Regions from separate parts of the Homo sapiens genome. Here region 2 is linked to region 1. Evidence: fine-mapped expression QTL. Tissue or cell type: esophagus muscle. Region 1 holds a variant in brackets; the other region holds the start of a gene. All regions are shown on one strand. Distances are between the middles of the regions.

Region 1 (8,106 bases):
CCTGATTCCACCTCCAGAAATTCTAGTTTAATTTGCCTGAGGTACAGTCTGGGTATTGAGGTTTTTAGATGTTCCCCAAGTGATTCTAAAGTGCAACCAAGGTTGAGAATCCTGGATATAGCACTAGACTGCAAATCGGATGAGCTAGATTGGAGTCCTTGCTTCCCACATGTTAGTTATGTGACCTTGAATATGCCACTTAATTTCTCCAGGCCAGCACTATCTTTATGTATAGAATACAGGCAATAAGATCTTTTCTTTCTAAATTTTAAGGTATTGTGATGACAAAAAGAGAAAATGTGTATAAATTAAAAAAGGAATCCTATTGACATACGGTAAAACTCATAAACTGGTTAAGAACAGAAGCCTTGGAGTCAGAGACCAGGTTCAAATCACCCTCTCACTAGTTCTGTGACGTTAAATAGACTGATTATCCTTACTAATCCTCAGTATCCTACTTAGCACAAGGTGGGTAATAATACTCACTTAAAAGCCTTGCTGTGTAGTTTAAAGAATGCCTGGGAAGGTGTGTGCCGTGCGCTGCACCTGGTAGATGGGAAGTGCTCTACAGATGACAGATTACAGGCACCAAGGACTCCCTCTGCTGGTAAATGGCTCAGGATATGTTTTCTACTGGCCTCTGTCATTTACTGTGAAGTGTGAATAGCTTTAGATTATTACCTCAGTGGTGGAGATTGGGTCTACACATGGAAGCCCCCAGGAGTGTAGAGTCTTGTGGACTCCAGGCCAGCAGGATGGGCATTGCCTGGGATCTTGTTAAACACACAGAATTTGGGTTCCCATCCCAGACCTACTGCATCAGAATCTGCATTTTAACCAGATCCCCAGGTAATCTGTGTGTGCACTAAAGTTTGAGAAGCACTGGCCTAGGGGTTAATGGGCACTCATAAGACTGGGGTCTTATGATAGTTTGAGAATCCTAAATTAGAATGAATTGACACATTTATACACTCTCTTCTCTGTGGGTATTGATTCCCTTGTTCCTTTTCATTGGCATCATTTGCCACTTATAAGTTTGTCTTTCATTCTCTTTTCCTTCTTTCCAGTCCTGAAGTGAGCATATAGCCATTTTTGAGGACAATGTGGGATATTTTATTAAACTTGGGTTCAAATTTTACTTTTGGAACTTTCTGTGTATCCAGCTGTGTATCCTTAGACAAATGACTTAACCTGTTTGAATTTCTTCATCTTTTAAAGTAGACACTTAAAAGAGCCTTACCCTTCACAGGGTGACTGTGTGGATTGGAAGGGACAAGCATGTCAAGTCTTTCCCCCCTGGCTGGCACAGACCTGAGTGGCAGTTAGTTCTGCTCTTCTGCCTTAACAGACAGATAGGTATCAAGTCACATATGCTTGGTAACCAGACTGTTCAGATATCCCTTTATTGTTTTCACTTAAATTGTGGAGAAAGGAAGTTTACACTTAAGTGCTAATAGATTCTTGGGACAATGAAAGGATATTTAAAGTGTGGTTTACCTTTTAGAGACAAACTAGCCTCAAACTGGAGGATAACTTCCTGCTTCCTCTGGGAGGAAGAGCTAGCCTCTGAGTTCTGCCACTGAAACCAGCTCTGGGAATAAGGAAGTGGGGGGAAATTGGCTGTTGGGGATTAACATCCCTATTTTCCTTCTTCCCAGTTGAGAACAGCATAATTTCTCTTGACCTGGCATTGAAACAGGCCCAGGTCTGTTCTAGCTGCTGCAGTCTGTAGGGGAAAGTGGTGGTGGGCACTTAAAAAAAAGAATTCTAAGCATGGGAACTGGGTATGAAAAAGGAGTTCTGATAGTTTCTGGGTGATTTGACTGTCCCAGCTCTTTCAGGGTCTAGTCCATAGGTAGGCAATGTCTAGTCAGACATAATATGCAAGTGCCTGCCTCTTTATATCTCTAGTCTGCAGAGGTAGATTGGTGCCTGTAGTAGAAATAATAACAATGGCTATTATTGAAGCCATTAAGCAATAAGGTGGTATATTACATTTAAAAAAAATCCTCACAGTTCAGTGTCCTGGACATATTTTATTATACTAAAAATATCTGCTTATAAGTCTGTCTCCCTTGCTAGTCTGTATATTTCTCCAAGTTAGAGATTGTGCCGTCATTTTCATCTTCGCATACCTGTGGACTTGCACATTGTTTATTGTTTTAATATACATTTATTTAGTTGAACTGAAAATTTTATGCAGAAAGCATTATGTGACCATTCAACAGATAAAGAAATTGAAGATAAGAGAAGTAAAAAAAACATACTTTACTCAGTTTACAAAAACATATTTTACTCCGTTTGCAACAGCTAGGCTTCCAGTTGAGCTAAAAGTGATTCCCAAAGCCAGTTCTCCACAATGCTACCTGGATTAACAAATACTCTTGGGCCACATCAAAAACTAAATCAGCACCCATATTCTGTGGGCAGGTTTGCTTCTCTTCCTTGAACGTAGAACATCTATATCTTAACCTAGGTATCATCAAAGACAACAGGATTTTCAGAGTACAAGGAAGTTCTAGACTCACACTTTTCTTAAGCTTGTAGAAATCACCATATTTAGCTTTTCTTTGGCGAAAATTGTTTTTTTTTTTAATTTCTTAAAATACAAGCCCATCTTTCTGTCATTGGAACTCAGAAAGTGTTGGCTTCCAGTGAGAAATGTGTGGTAGTCAGAGAACTGAGCATATGTGTGTTCTTCATCCTGTTCTCTCATTTGACTCCTTCTGCATATTTTTAGTCAAGTCTCATGATATTTCTGTCTCATACTCTGTGTCTGTGAGGTTCACTGATTGTTTCTTGAGGGCATTTCATTTCTAGACTCTGAAAGAGTTCCTGAGAGCTTTTTAACTATTAGGAACAAAAAATGCAGTTAGTGTAAAAAGAAAGAATTTTTTAATGTGCTTAATTTAAAAAATTCTGATAATTTTTTTCTCCTTTGCATTTCATTCAGGTTGAAATAAGAAACACTGGAAACATATATAAGATAAGGATAGGACATGATGGAACCAGTGAGCAACCCGAGTGGAACTTGCAGAGGGTAATCATGTCACTTATTTTTTTCTTCATAGTTATTCTCTGATGAAAAGAAGCAAGCTGGCTATGTAAAGCAGTGAAAACGGTATTTTCCTAATTACAGATGCTCCTTGACTTACAGTGGGGTTATGCCTCTGTAAACTCATGGTAAATAAAAAATATCCTAAGTCAAAAATGAATTTAATGCCACTGACATAGCAGATAGTTCTCTACTTACTATGGTTTGACTTAAGATTTTTCGACTTATGATGGCGTGAAAGCGACATCTATTCAATAAAAGCTGTAACCCATCATGGGTCATACAGAGCTCTCTGACTTATGATGGGTTACTTCCCAATAAACCCATCATAACCTCAAGAAATTGTAAGTTGAACTGTGGTAAGTTGAGGACCATCCGTATTGTAAATAATGTGAACAAAATTTTTGTGGACATAACACTCTAAACAAATATGGTTCATTCTTGCGAAAGGTTTTTTTTAATAGCATATTTATGGTTATATTTGCAAAGATAATCTGTTCATAGAAATCTGAAGAATACGGTGAAGTGTAAGAACAAAATGAATTGTTATTCATTGATCATTAGATGACCACTCGGTGGTGCATTTTTTTTTCATATCTTTTTTCTATGAATCTCTTTCATGGTTCCTTGCAGACTCGTGTGCTTTCTGTCTCTCGGTATAGATATAGATACATACACACACACATAGCACATATATATGTGTAAATATCAATGTAAAATATAGCCATGTGCCACATAGGATGTTTTGATTAGCAATGGACTGCATATACAATGGTGGTCCCATAAGATTATAATGGAGCTGAAAAATTCTTACTGCCTAGTGATGTCACAGCTGTTGTAATGTCCTATTGTAATGAATTACTCATGTATTTGTGGTGATGCAGGTGTAAACAAACCTACTGTGCTGCCAGTTGTGTAGAAGAATAGCATATTCAATTATGTACAGTA[C/T]GTAATACTTGCTAATGTAAGCAACTGTTACTGGGATGTGTGTTTTATATATATGTAATTTAATATATATAAAAATATATTTTATATATATACATATAATGCCATATACTTTTAATCACTTAGAGTGTACTCATTCTACTTATTAACTTATTATACTTATATTAACTCATTCTACTTATTAACAAAAAGTTAACTGTAAAACAGCCTCAGGCAGCCTTTCAAGAAGTGTTCCAGAAGAAAGCATTGTTATCATAGGAGATGACAGCTTCATGCATGTTGTTCCCCTGAATATCTTCCAATGGGTCAAGATGTGGAGGTGTAAGGCAGTGATATGGGTGAACCTGACATTGTGCAGGCCTAGGCGAATGTGTATGTTCATGTCTTTATTTTTAACAAGAAAGCTTAAAAAGTAAAAAAAAAAAAAAAAAAAAAAAAAAAATTAAGTAGAGAGCCAGGCGCAGTGGCTCACACCTATAATCCTAGCACTTTGGGAGGCCAAGGTGGGTGGATCATGAGGTCAGGAGTTCAAGACCAGCCTGACCAACATAGTGAAATCTCATCTCTACTAAAAATACAAGAATTAGCTGGGCGTGGTGATATGCACCTGTAATCCCAGCTACTCAGGAGGCTGAGGCAGGAGAATTGCTTGAACCTGGGAGGTGGAGGTTACAGTGAGCCAAGATCACACCACTGCGTTCCAGCCTGGGCGACAAAGCGAGACTCTGTCTTAAAAAAAATAATAATAAAATAAGTAGAAAAAAAGCTTATGGGCCGGGTGCGGTGGATCATGCCTGTCATCTCAGCACTTTGGGAGGCCGAAGTGGAATGGATCACCTGAGGTCAGGAGTTGGAGACCAGCCTGGCTAACATGGTGAAACCCCATCTCTACTAAAATTAGCCAGGCGTGGTGGCAGGCGCCTGTAGTCCCAGCTAGTCGGGAGGCTGAGGCAGGAGAATCGCTTGAACCCCAGAGGCAGAGGTTGCAGTGAGCTGAGATTGCACCATTGCACTCCAGTCTGGGGGACAAGAGTGAGACTTTGTCTCAAAAAAAAAAAAAGCTTATGGAATAAGAATATAAAGAAAGAAAATATTTTTGTATGACTGTACAGTGTGTTTGTGTTTTAAGCTAAGTGTTATTACAAAAGAGTCAAAAAGTTTTTAAAAAATTAAATGTTTAATTTATTATGGAAAAAAGAAAAATATTTTTTATGAATTTAGTGTAGCCTAAGTATACATTGTTAATGAAGCCTACAGTAGTGTACAATAATGTCCTAGGCCTTCACATTCACTCACCACTTACTCACTGACTCACCCAGAGCAACTTCCATCCTGCAAACTCCATTCATGGCAAATGCCCTATACAAGTGTACCATTTTTAATCTTTCATGCTCTATTTTTAGTTTACCTTTTCTCTGTTTAATATGTTTAGATTTGTAAATACTTACCATTGTGTTACAATTTCCTGTAGTACAGTAACATGCTACACAGGTGTGTAGCCTGTGATCAATAAGCTATACCATATAGCCTAGGTATGTAGTAGGCTATTCCATCTAGGTTTGTGTAAGTGCACTCTATGATGTTTACACAATAATGAAATTGCCTAACAATGCATTTCTTGGAAAGTATCCCCATTGTTAAACAACACATGAATATATATAAAAACATATGTATAAATAAATACCTTAAATATGTACATATAAATACAAATGTGTGTGTATATATATATATATATATATATATATATATATATATATATATGTTTATATGTGCTTTGCCCTTTTAGTGAAATTGAATCATGCTATGTATGCACTTTGAGATCCTGGTTTTTTTATTTTTTCATTTTTATTTAATCATGGCAGTAATAACAATAATAATAATAATGAGTATTTGTTGAGTGCTTAACATATGCCACCTACCTTACAAATACCACTGTATTTCTGCCTAATAGCAGCTCTTTGATTTAGGTACCATTAATATCCTATTTTACATATGAGAAAACTGAGGCTCGATCAAGTTAAGTAATTTGCCTGAGGTTCCTCAGTAAATGGTCTTATTGTATGTTGGACTCCAGAGACTGAGATCTTAAGCACTATCATTGGGCCTTAAGTTTATTTTCAAAAATAGATGGTAATTAAACACTTAAAAGCCTTGAGATTTCTGTATGGAAGCACTAGATTATAGTGGAGTCAGATGAAATGGTTTGAATCATAGAACATCTTTGCTTTCTGGCTTTAAATACTATATCTGTCACTGGTTCCTTTACAGTACAAGATATGTTATTCCAAAATGCTTCAGGTTTAAAATTTGGAATACCACTGATAGAGTCTAGCAAAATGTTTCTTTCTTTTTAAGTGTTTCTTAATTTTATCTGTGATTTTTATTATTGTATCTTTGGTTGTATAATAAAAGTAATTGAGAAAAATGTTAATTTTGCTGAGGTGTTTATTGTAGTATTTCTTAGGACATGCCTATATAATGAAATGTTTTCTAATAGTTCAGGAACAGGTAAATATGTTCCAGTCAGTAAGTCAAGAAATATCTACTTAGCACCTAATACATGCCCTGCATTATGCTAGATGATATGGAGGATTTGAGGAAACCATTTGGTGACTTTAAAGTTTTCTATTTAGAAGCATTGAAAGAATTCTAAGATGAGAAAAGCAATGACCTTTTAAGAAGATGCAAAAACCATGGAACCTGCAAAGTGTAGTAAAATCAGAAGCTCTGTGCCTGTGAATTACTGGGAAAGGTGAGTCAGAACTAAAATTTTAGAAGAAACTTACCCATGAGTTAAGTGGGCCTGAAGTCAATAGCATGGATGTGCTTTCTCTGGGGCCTGTGAGTGAGAAAAGTGGTTGAGGGGTATAGCAACATCACTACGTAGTGATTCTTCAACTGGAGGAAAAAACATCCCCAGCAGAAGCTGTCCAAGGAAGGAGCACTCAGTCCTGGGAACCAAGGGAGGCATCATCCATTCCTCTGGTCAGTGGTAAAGGCTTCTGTGAAGAGTAAAGTGGGTAGAACACTAATTAATTGATTGAATTGAGCAGCTAGAAACTGTCATTACCAAAGCAATGTAAGAGAAGGGACTTTTCCTACACCTTACTTTACTTTTTATTGTGAAGTGATTTCAAATTTATTTTAAAAATTGCAAGAATGGAAGAAAGAACTCAAATTTCACTCAGATTCCCAGTTGTTAAGGTTGCACTCCATCTACTTTACCATTCCCTGTTAAAATATATATATATGTTTGTGTGTTTATATGTATGTCTTAATCGTTTGACAAATATTTACTGACATGAAGTCCATTGATTCTTTGGCTATGTAAATATCGTATTCACCATAAAATTTTTACCCACTAATTTTAGGATCCATTGATGATTTTTGCCTTAGTCAGTTATTACTGTGATGGTGGCCAAATGGTGATTTTTATATTCTATTGTTATTTCTCTATTTATTAATTGGCATTCTACTACAAGGTAGAACTTTTTCCTTCTCTCCATTTCAAAATTTCATTTATTTATTCATACCAGCGTGTACTTGCAGATTCTTACTTTATTTGATGGGTTAATCTTTATTAACATAATTTACTTTGATGCTGAAATCATCCTTCATTTTTTCCTGTAAGCCCCTATATTTTTTTCACATGTCACTGTCCGTTCTACGAGGACTTCTTTACTTTCTGATTTGAAAAGATGTTTCAGGCTTATCTAGTACTTTCTTTTCCCTAGCCCTGGAATTACCTATTTCTCAAGGAGCCCTAGTTTAATTTAGTGGAGAATGGTTTTTAGACACCAGTATTTACGTGAGCAATTCAAAGAAGTTACTTTCCCCACTAATGCCCATTCACCTCAGCCCTGAGGCCGCTTCCCATGATGTAAAAAGCCAGCCATGCTTCTGCTTTCCCAAGATGCTCCCCAATAAATGTTTCCAGTGTGGAAAACACTGAGTTTCCCACATGAGTTTTGGAAACACTGAGTTTTTCATTCCTCTCTTGGAAAGTCACAATGCAAATAAATATAGTAAAGGTTCTGGGATGCCCTGTGGTAGGGAAATCTGTTTAACAGCATTTCCAAAACTAAATTCACCATGGGGTCATATTT
Region 2 (8,106 bases), 600 kb before region 1:
CTATCTGATTTTTTCAACATATGTAGGCATTACAATACTTCAATAAAATTAAAACCTATTTAGGTGTGAATAAAGACCTTTAGGTTGGAACCAAGTTTTATCAAGGCAAAATTAGTTAAGTTTTATCAAGGGGACATTTATTTCCAGCCCCTTTCCATGCCCTCTTCATAGCCTTCTCTCAATATTAGTTTTCTCCCAATATCAAAGGGATTCATTGTTCTCCTGCCTCTGGCTTTCTCCCACCTTCACTTAGGAATATTGCTTCTCCAGTTATTTTCTGCTCAACTTTTTTTTTTTGAGAGGAGTCTTGCCCTGTTGCCCAGGCTGGAGTACAGTGGCACAATCTCAGCTCACTGCGACCTCCTCCTCCTGGGTTTTAGTGATTCTCCTGCCTCAGCCTCCTGAGTAGCTGGGACTACAGACACCTGCCACCATGCCCAGCTAATGTTTGTATTTTTTGTAGACATGGGTTTCACCATGTTGGCCAGGCTTGTCTCAAACTCCTGACCTCAAGTGATTCACCCACCTGGGCCTCCCAAATTTCTGGGTTTACTAGGATTACAGGTGTGAGCCACTGTGTCCAGCCTATTCCCTTTTATTTTCATTTCCCAGTCCCCTTCTCTGCTAATCCTGAAATTTTCTTTTTTTTTTTTGAGATGGAGTTTCGCTCTGTTGCCCAGGCTGATCTTGGCTCACTGCAACCTCTGCCTCCTGGGATTTCAAGCAATTCTCCTGTCTCAGCCTCCTGAGTAGCTGGGATTACAGGCTCATGCCACCATGCCTGGTTAATTTTTGTATTTTTAGTAGAGACGGGGTTTCACTATGTTGGTCACACTGTTCTCGAACTCCTGATCTCGTGATTCGCTCACCTTGGCCTCCCAAAGAGCTGGGATTACAGGCATGAGCCACCGCGCCCGGCAAAAAAACTTTTTTTTAGAAAAATAATTAACTCAAAGGAATTAATCTATGTTAACACACTGTCAGGTGCTGATATATATATAGATTGGGGAAGATTTCGTGGCAGTGTGTGAAGTCTTCCAAAGCAGTTCAAATTGTATCACTTCATTCTTTTTTTTTTTTTTTTTTCAGACAGAGTTTTGCTCTTGTGGCCCAGGCTGGAGTGCAATGGCGTGATCTTGGCTCACCACAACTTCCGCCTCCGGGGTTCAAGCGATTCTCCTGCCTCAGCCTCCTGAGTAGCTGGGATTACAGGTATGCACTACCACTCCCAGCTAATTTTGTATTTTTATTAGAGATGGCGTTTCTCCATGTTGGTCAGGCTGGTCTCGAACTCCCAGCCTCAGGTGATCCGCCTGCCTTAGCTTCCCAAAGTGCTGGGATTACAGGCGTGAGCCACTGCGCCCGGCTTCATTGTTATTATGTAATGATTCAGCAGTTATTATCAACTGGGGTTGGAATCAGGATGGACCTTAAATAGTTGTTGAGATATTAATGTTTTTATTACAAGTTCTTGTTAACTTGATTTAAACAGGATTTAGCACATCCCAAGCATGTAGGTGGGTAATAAATATGACTTGTGCAATTATGAGGATGACATAAAACTACTATATACTTAAGGTAAGGATTGTTGACTTATTGACCACACACCCTTAATTTACATTCTTACAACACAAACGAAACTCATCAAATTATTTTGACAGTTTTATATGCTTAATCAACATGTTGGATATGGGATAAACAAACACGTAGCCTACAATTAACTGTCAACAATTGTTATTCCCATTATTATTAACTGATGTCCACCAATAACATTATATAACCCATACGACTTCTACTTCCAAGAAGTGCAGCATATTTCTTGTATTTTATTTATTCAATAAAAAAATTTTCCATGATAAAAAACATTACTGGCATTAACACTTAATCAAGAAGTTCATTACTTAATGCAAACAATGATTTTTTGGGGATTGAAAATAATTGTGCACTTTTCTGTAGATTAGGGTACAGTTTGCAATTATATTTTGCAATTTTCTTCCCAAAGGTAGGAAAGTTTAATAAAAACACAATGAAAACTACTGAATTAAAAATCACTAAAGGCAGGCTGGACTCAGTGGCTCACACCTGTAATCCCAGCACTTTGGGAGGCCAAGGCAGGTGGATCATTTGAGGTTAGGAGTTTCAGACAAGCCTGGCCAACGTGGTGAAACCCAGTCTCTACTAAAAAACCAACCAAACAAACAAACTAAAAAAGCTGTACGTTGTGGTGCATGCCTGTAATCTCAGCTACTGGGGAGGCTGAGGCAGGAGAATCGCTTGAACCTGGGTGAGGAGCCTGCAGTGAGCCGAGATGGCGCTACTGCACTCCAGCCTGGGCGACAGAGTGAGATTCCATTTCAAACAAACAAACCAAAAATCATTAAAGGCAGAAAATAGGTTCTATTGCCCCCCACACCCCATTCTATTTCTTCTGTGCTTCTAAATAGAGTCTAGACTTTACCATCATATCATTTTATCGAACTCACATATTTTGTTTTTGCTAATTAGTCTACAAGAGGCCTACTTTTATCTTTAACTTTTAAAAAACATTCACGGGCCAGGCGCCGTGGCTCACGCCTGTAATCCCAGCACTTTGGGAGGCCGAGGCAGGGGGATCACCTGAGGCCAGGAGTTGGAGACCAGCCTGGCCAACATGGCGAAAACCCGTCTCTACTAAACATACAAAAAAAAATTAGCGGGGCGTGCTGGTGAACGCCTGTAATCCCAGCTACTCAGGAGGCGGAGGCGGAAGAATTGCTTGAACCAGAGAGGCAGAGGTTGCAGTGAGCTGAGATTGAACCATTGCACTCTAGCCTAAGCAACAGAGCGAGACTCTGTCTCAAAATAATAATAATAATAATTCACTTTTGGAAACTGTTCCCTACTAGATTTCAAACAACTTGGGAATGAAATCCTATTTGAGTTCATCCATGTGTATTTCCAACAAGTTCAGTGTCTTACTTATAAATAGTACTTGAAGGAATGAATACAACTTTTTCTTTATGTAGTTATTTTACACTTGATTTAAAGGAACTTTAAAAAGACGCAGTTATACCTAGAGACAGACGCCCTCCAAAAATTGTCTCACCTTCATTATTTGTGATTACTAGTTAGAGCTAGCAGAAAAAACTCCCCAGCAAGTGAAATGTCAAACCACTACTAAAAGAAAGAAAAAGAAAGGAACAGTCTTTTCTATATTTAAGTCACTTGAGAGAAAAAAGAAGAGCTGGTATTTTTCGAGTAATAATGTTCGTATTTTGTGATGCAGATACTCAATTTTACATTCTAAAAATACTACTTTTATAGTAGGAAGCAGTGTACGTTTGAATCCTGGCTCTGCCGCTTGTTGCAAGAAGTTGGTCAAGCTATCGGACCTTGCTAAGCCTTCCCTGTTGTAACTGTAAAATGTAGTAACACCATTTACCTCTAGAATGGCTGTAAATCGAGTAAGGCTTATTTAATACAGCGTCTGGCATACACCAGGCATTCAGTATGGCGCCAGTCATTAACAATAGGTGGTTACTAACTGCGATTCACTCAAAACAATACAGATGCACACGGATGAGAGTTCACACTTTGAGTCTTATTCAAAGATTGGTTATTAGCCAGGCATTTTGATAGGTGCACTCAGTTTTATTTTCGTACCTCACGGTGTATAATTACGCAAGCTCAAAAGCTAATAATTGACAGCTCACTTTGCTTTACTCTGGGTTCTGCATTGACCTCAGAGAAGACACGGCCTAGACAAACAGGCAAGGCCCAACACTGACTCAAAAAAGATCCTTTATTTAACGCAGTGTTTTTAGTGCATGCTCTCGTTTGGCGAAAGAGAAGGTTTTACGTTCAGAATATTAAAAGGGACCCCGAGGACAAAGCAGGATCTCGGAAAATAAGATCACATCCCCAAACAACTAAAAGGACAACCGAGACAAGGTTGCAGACTCCCACGCCTCTGCCCGACTCCCGGGCTTGCGCGCGCGGCTGCAGCGCGACAGGGGCGGGGCCACGGCCACAAAGCAGCCCCCGAGACCACGTGGCCTCCGAGCAGCTCAGGGCGCCCTTGAAAGTTCTTGGATCTGCGGGTTATGGCCGGTCCCTTGCAGGGCGGTGGGGCCCGGGCCCTGGACCTACTCCGGGGCCTGCCGCGTGTGAGCCTGGCCAACTTAAAGCCGAATCCCGGCTCCAAGAAACCGGTAAATGGGTGGTGGCGGTGCGGGGAAGCGCTGGGGACCCGGGCGATGAAAGCGGCCCTTCTCTCCCTGTCATTAGGAGAACTGCCCTTTCTAGGAGAGTGTTGGGATGAAAATAGGATTGCCTCATGCCTGTTCTCCCTTACTGCCCAGAGGGGAATCTTTCCACGTGCACCCAGTTCTTTTTTTTTTTTTTTTTTTTTTTTCCGAGACGGAGGCTTGCTCTGTCGCCCAGAAGCAATTCTCCTGCCTCAGCCTCCCGATTAGCTGGGATTACAGGCGCCCGCCATCACGCCCGGCTAATTTTTGTATTTTTAGTAGAGACGTGGTTTCACCGTGTTGGCCAGGCTGGTTTTGAACTCCTGAGCTCGCGATCCGCCTGCCTCGGCCTCCCAAAGTGCTGGGATTACAGGCGTGAGCCACCGCCCCCGGCCGCACCCAGTTCTTAATAAGGTTATGTTTACAAGTGTAAAGATACCAGGCGGAGAAGCCGACTCGCTGAAACTACAAAGTCTTTGTGTCATTCAAAATTGGATTTAAAATGAAATGTTTTCCCGGTGTATCTTTATGTTCATTGGAAAGATCTGAATTGCAGCTGTCCCTTCTGCAGTTGACTAAATAGAGCTAGAAAAGCTGTTAGTTGACAATGTACTGTCATTTTAACAGTCAGTTCATTGCTTTCGTGAAATGACAGGAAATTAAGGAAAAGATTTTCTTCAACAGATCAGTTTTCAAATAAAATTACAGGTTTATGAATAACATTTGCATATTTACAATTAATTTCAGAATAAATTCTTGCCTATCATTTAAAATGTTGTGAATATTTAATTCTAGGATTTTTTTCGGTTTCAACCTATTATAAAAACCTTATCCCCATCCTAACCTTTACTTTTTGCTTTTGAAACACACTTGGACTTTGGTTACAAGAATTAGCTATGTCTTTAGAGGCAAAGATGCTAACAGAGTGTGTGGAGCTTTGAGCAACTAGGACATGCTTGACACAATAGTGTTAGCTAGCACTGGTGGGCTGGATGAATGAACAGCATAACAAAAAGTGAAGAGCTGAAATGCAGTTTTTAGAAATGCATCTGAAATTCATAAAATTCTTTTTTTTCCTTGCAGGAGAGAAGACCAAGAGGTCGGAGAAGAGGTAGAAAATGTGGCAGAGGCCATAAAGGAGAAAGGCAAAGAGGAACCCGGCCCCGCTTGGGCTTTGAGGGAGGCCAGACTCCATTTTACATCCGAATCCCAAAATACGGGTTTAACGAAGGACATAGGTAAGGTTGCTTTGCTTTTTAAAGTACAGGTCCCCAATTTCCATTAAAAAGCACCTAAAAATAGTTTGGTAGAAATTTTGGTGGAAATTGTAAATTCACTTTGAAGCAAACTTTTGCTACTGTTCCCCTGAACCATTTTTTGGTAATGAAATCTTGCCTGGATTATTAAAAGGAAAAGAGGCCCAGACACTGCACTTAGACCTGCAAAATGGAGATTCTAATGCCAGCTCTAATGGTTATTAAAAGAGTGAGCAATAATAGACAGTATACATAAAAATCTGGCCCACTGTAGTCACCTAATAAATGATAACTACCATTATTACTTTGAGCTCCATAGTAAGTTAAATTTTCCACAGATTTATTTGTGTAAATAAGTGAAGTAAATGCTTAGAGAGGGAAATAATTTTTAGTGGAACAAAGGTGGTACAGGTTTGTTTTCATTACCCAAAATCAAGCAGTATTACATGTTTGTGTTACACTCAAGAGGGTTTTGTTTAGTTAAATAAAATTGGTGGAGGAAAACACAAGACAAAGCTTTGAGTTGATTTCGAGAAGTTACAGGAAGATGAGAGTTTTCCAACTCTTACATTCTTGTTTTACAGTTTCAGACGCCAGTATAAGCCTTTGAGTCTCAATAGACTGCAGTATCTTATTGATTTGGGTCGTGTTGATCCTAGTCAACCTATTGACTTAACCCAGCTTGTCAATGGGAGAGGTGTGACCATCCAGCCACTTAAAAGGGATTATGGTGTCCAGCTGGTTGAGGAGGTAAGTCTTGATTAGATCTTTTGGTGTTATATAGGAGGATTTTTTTTTTAGACAGAGTCTTGCCCTGTTGCCTGAGCTGGAGTACAGTGGCGCAATCTCGGCTCCTGCAACCTCCACCTCACAAGTTCAAGTGATTCTCCTGCCTCAGCCTCCTGAATAGCTGGGATTACAGGCACCCACCACCATGCCCAGCTAATTTTATTTGTTTTTAGTAGAGACAGGGTTTCACTATGTTGGCCAGGCTGATCTTGAACTCCTGACCTTAAGTGATCTGCTCACCTCGGCCTCCCAAAGTGCTGGAATTACAGGTGTGAGCCACCATGCCTGGCCCGTAGGAGATATTTTTGATTTCCAGATAATCAGTACTCTACCCCCTTTATTTTTAGCCCATTTGTGTTTATAACTGTTATGTAGTGGTGATAGCTGTGGTTTTGGAAAGCTGTCATACTATCATGGCAGGGCTCTGTCCCTTGGTCCTGGAATGCTGCTCTTCTGCATATCTGTAAAGCTTGCCTTCTTTTTTTTTTGTTTTTGTTTTTGAGATGGAGTCTCGCTCTGTTGCCCAGGCTGGAGTGCAGTGGCACGATCTCGGCTCACTGCAACCTCTGCCTCCTGGGTTCAAGAAATTCTCCTGCCTCAGCCTCCTGAGTAGCTGGGACTATAGTCGTGCGCCACCACACCCGGCTAATTTTTTATATTTTTAGTAGAGATGGAGTTTCGCCATATTGGCCAAGCTGGTCTTGAACACCTGACCTCGTGATCCACCCACCTTGGCCTCCCAAAGTGCTGGGATTACAGGCGTGAGCCACCGCCCACGGCGCCCCCTTCTTTTGGTTCTCTGCTTGAATGTCAACATATCAGGAAGATCTTTTTTTTTTTTTTTTTTTTTTTTTTTTAAATAGAGATGGAGTCTCACTCTGTCTCCCAGGCTGGAGTACAATGGCGCGATCTCAGCTCACTGCCAACCTCTGCTGCCCAGGTTCAAGCTATTCTCGTGCCTCAGCCTCCTGAGTAGGTGGGACTACAGGTGCGTGCCACCACGTCTGGCTAATTTTTTTTATTTTTAGTAGAGGTGGGGTTTTGCTATGTTGGCCAGGCTGTTCTCGAACTCCTGACCTCAGGTGATCTGCCCGCCTCAGCTTCCCAAAGTGCTGGGATTACAGATGTGAGCCACCCCGCCTGGCCAGGAAGGTCTTTTTTGAGAGTCTTTTTAAAAGAGCACTTGCCCTGCTTCAGGAGTCACAGTGTTTCCTTTACTCTGCCCAAAGTATTTTTCTTTGAATATATATGAGCACTTGACATTTATTACCAAGTTATGCATTTGTTTTCATTGTCTTCCTCACTAGAATATAAGCTCCCTTGAGGGCAGGTGCTTTGATTCATTGCTTTACTTTCTTCTTTATTTTTTTTGAGACAGTATCTCACTCTGTGGCCCAGGCTGGAGTACAGTGGTGTCATCTCAGCTCACTGCAACCTCTTGTCTCCTGAGTTCAAGTGATTCTTCTGCCTTAGCTTCCCAAGTAGCTGGGATTACAGGCACCTGCCACCAGGCCCAGCTAATTTTCTGCTTTTTTTTTGTTTTTGGAGATGGAGTCTCACTCTGTCACCCAGGCTGGAGTGCAGTGGCACGATCTCGGCTCACTGCGATCTCCACCTCCCGGGTTCAAGCGATTCTCTTGTCTTAGCCTTCCAAGTAGCTGGGATTACAGGCATGTGCCACCATGCCAGGCTAATTTTGTATTTTTAGTAGAGACAGGGTTTCACCGTGTTGGTTAGGCTGGTCTTGAACTCCTGACCTCAGGTGATCCGCCTGCCTCGGCCTCCCAAAGTGCTGGGATTACAGACGTGAGCTACCCGTCGGCCAAATTTTTTGT

The links. PIP is the estimated chance that this variant, and not a neighbour inherited with it, causes the effect.
Region 2: MRPL15 starts here. The variant in region 1 is fine-mapped to the expression of MRPL15 in esophagus muscle (GTEx, PIP above 0.99).

The regions. Positions count from the first base shown.
Region 1 is chr8:54,735,990-54,744,095 of GRCh38, forward strand. It overlaps a transcript of RP1 not described here. Among named protein-coding and RNA genes, the nearest start is that of RP1, 120 kb to the left of the region's middle. The variant C/T (reference allele first, on the strand shown) is at 4,004.
Region 2 is chr8:54,131,202-54,139,307 of GRCh38, forward strand. MRPL15 (mitochondrial ribosomal protein L15) reads left to right here and starts at 4,040. Exons shown (of 5, transcript NM_014175.4): 1 at 4,040-4,190; 2 at 5,310-5,464; 3 at 6,067-6,232. The coding sequence starts at 4,083.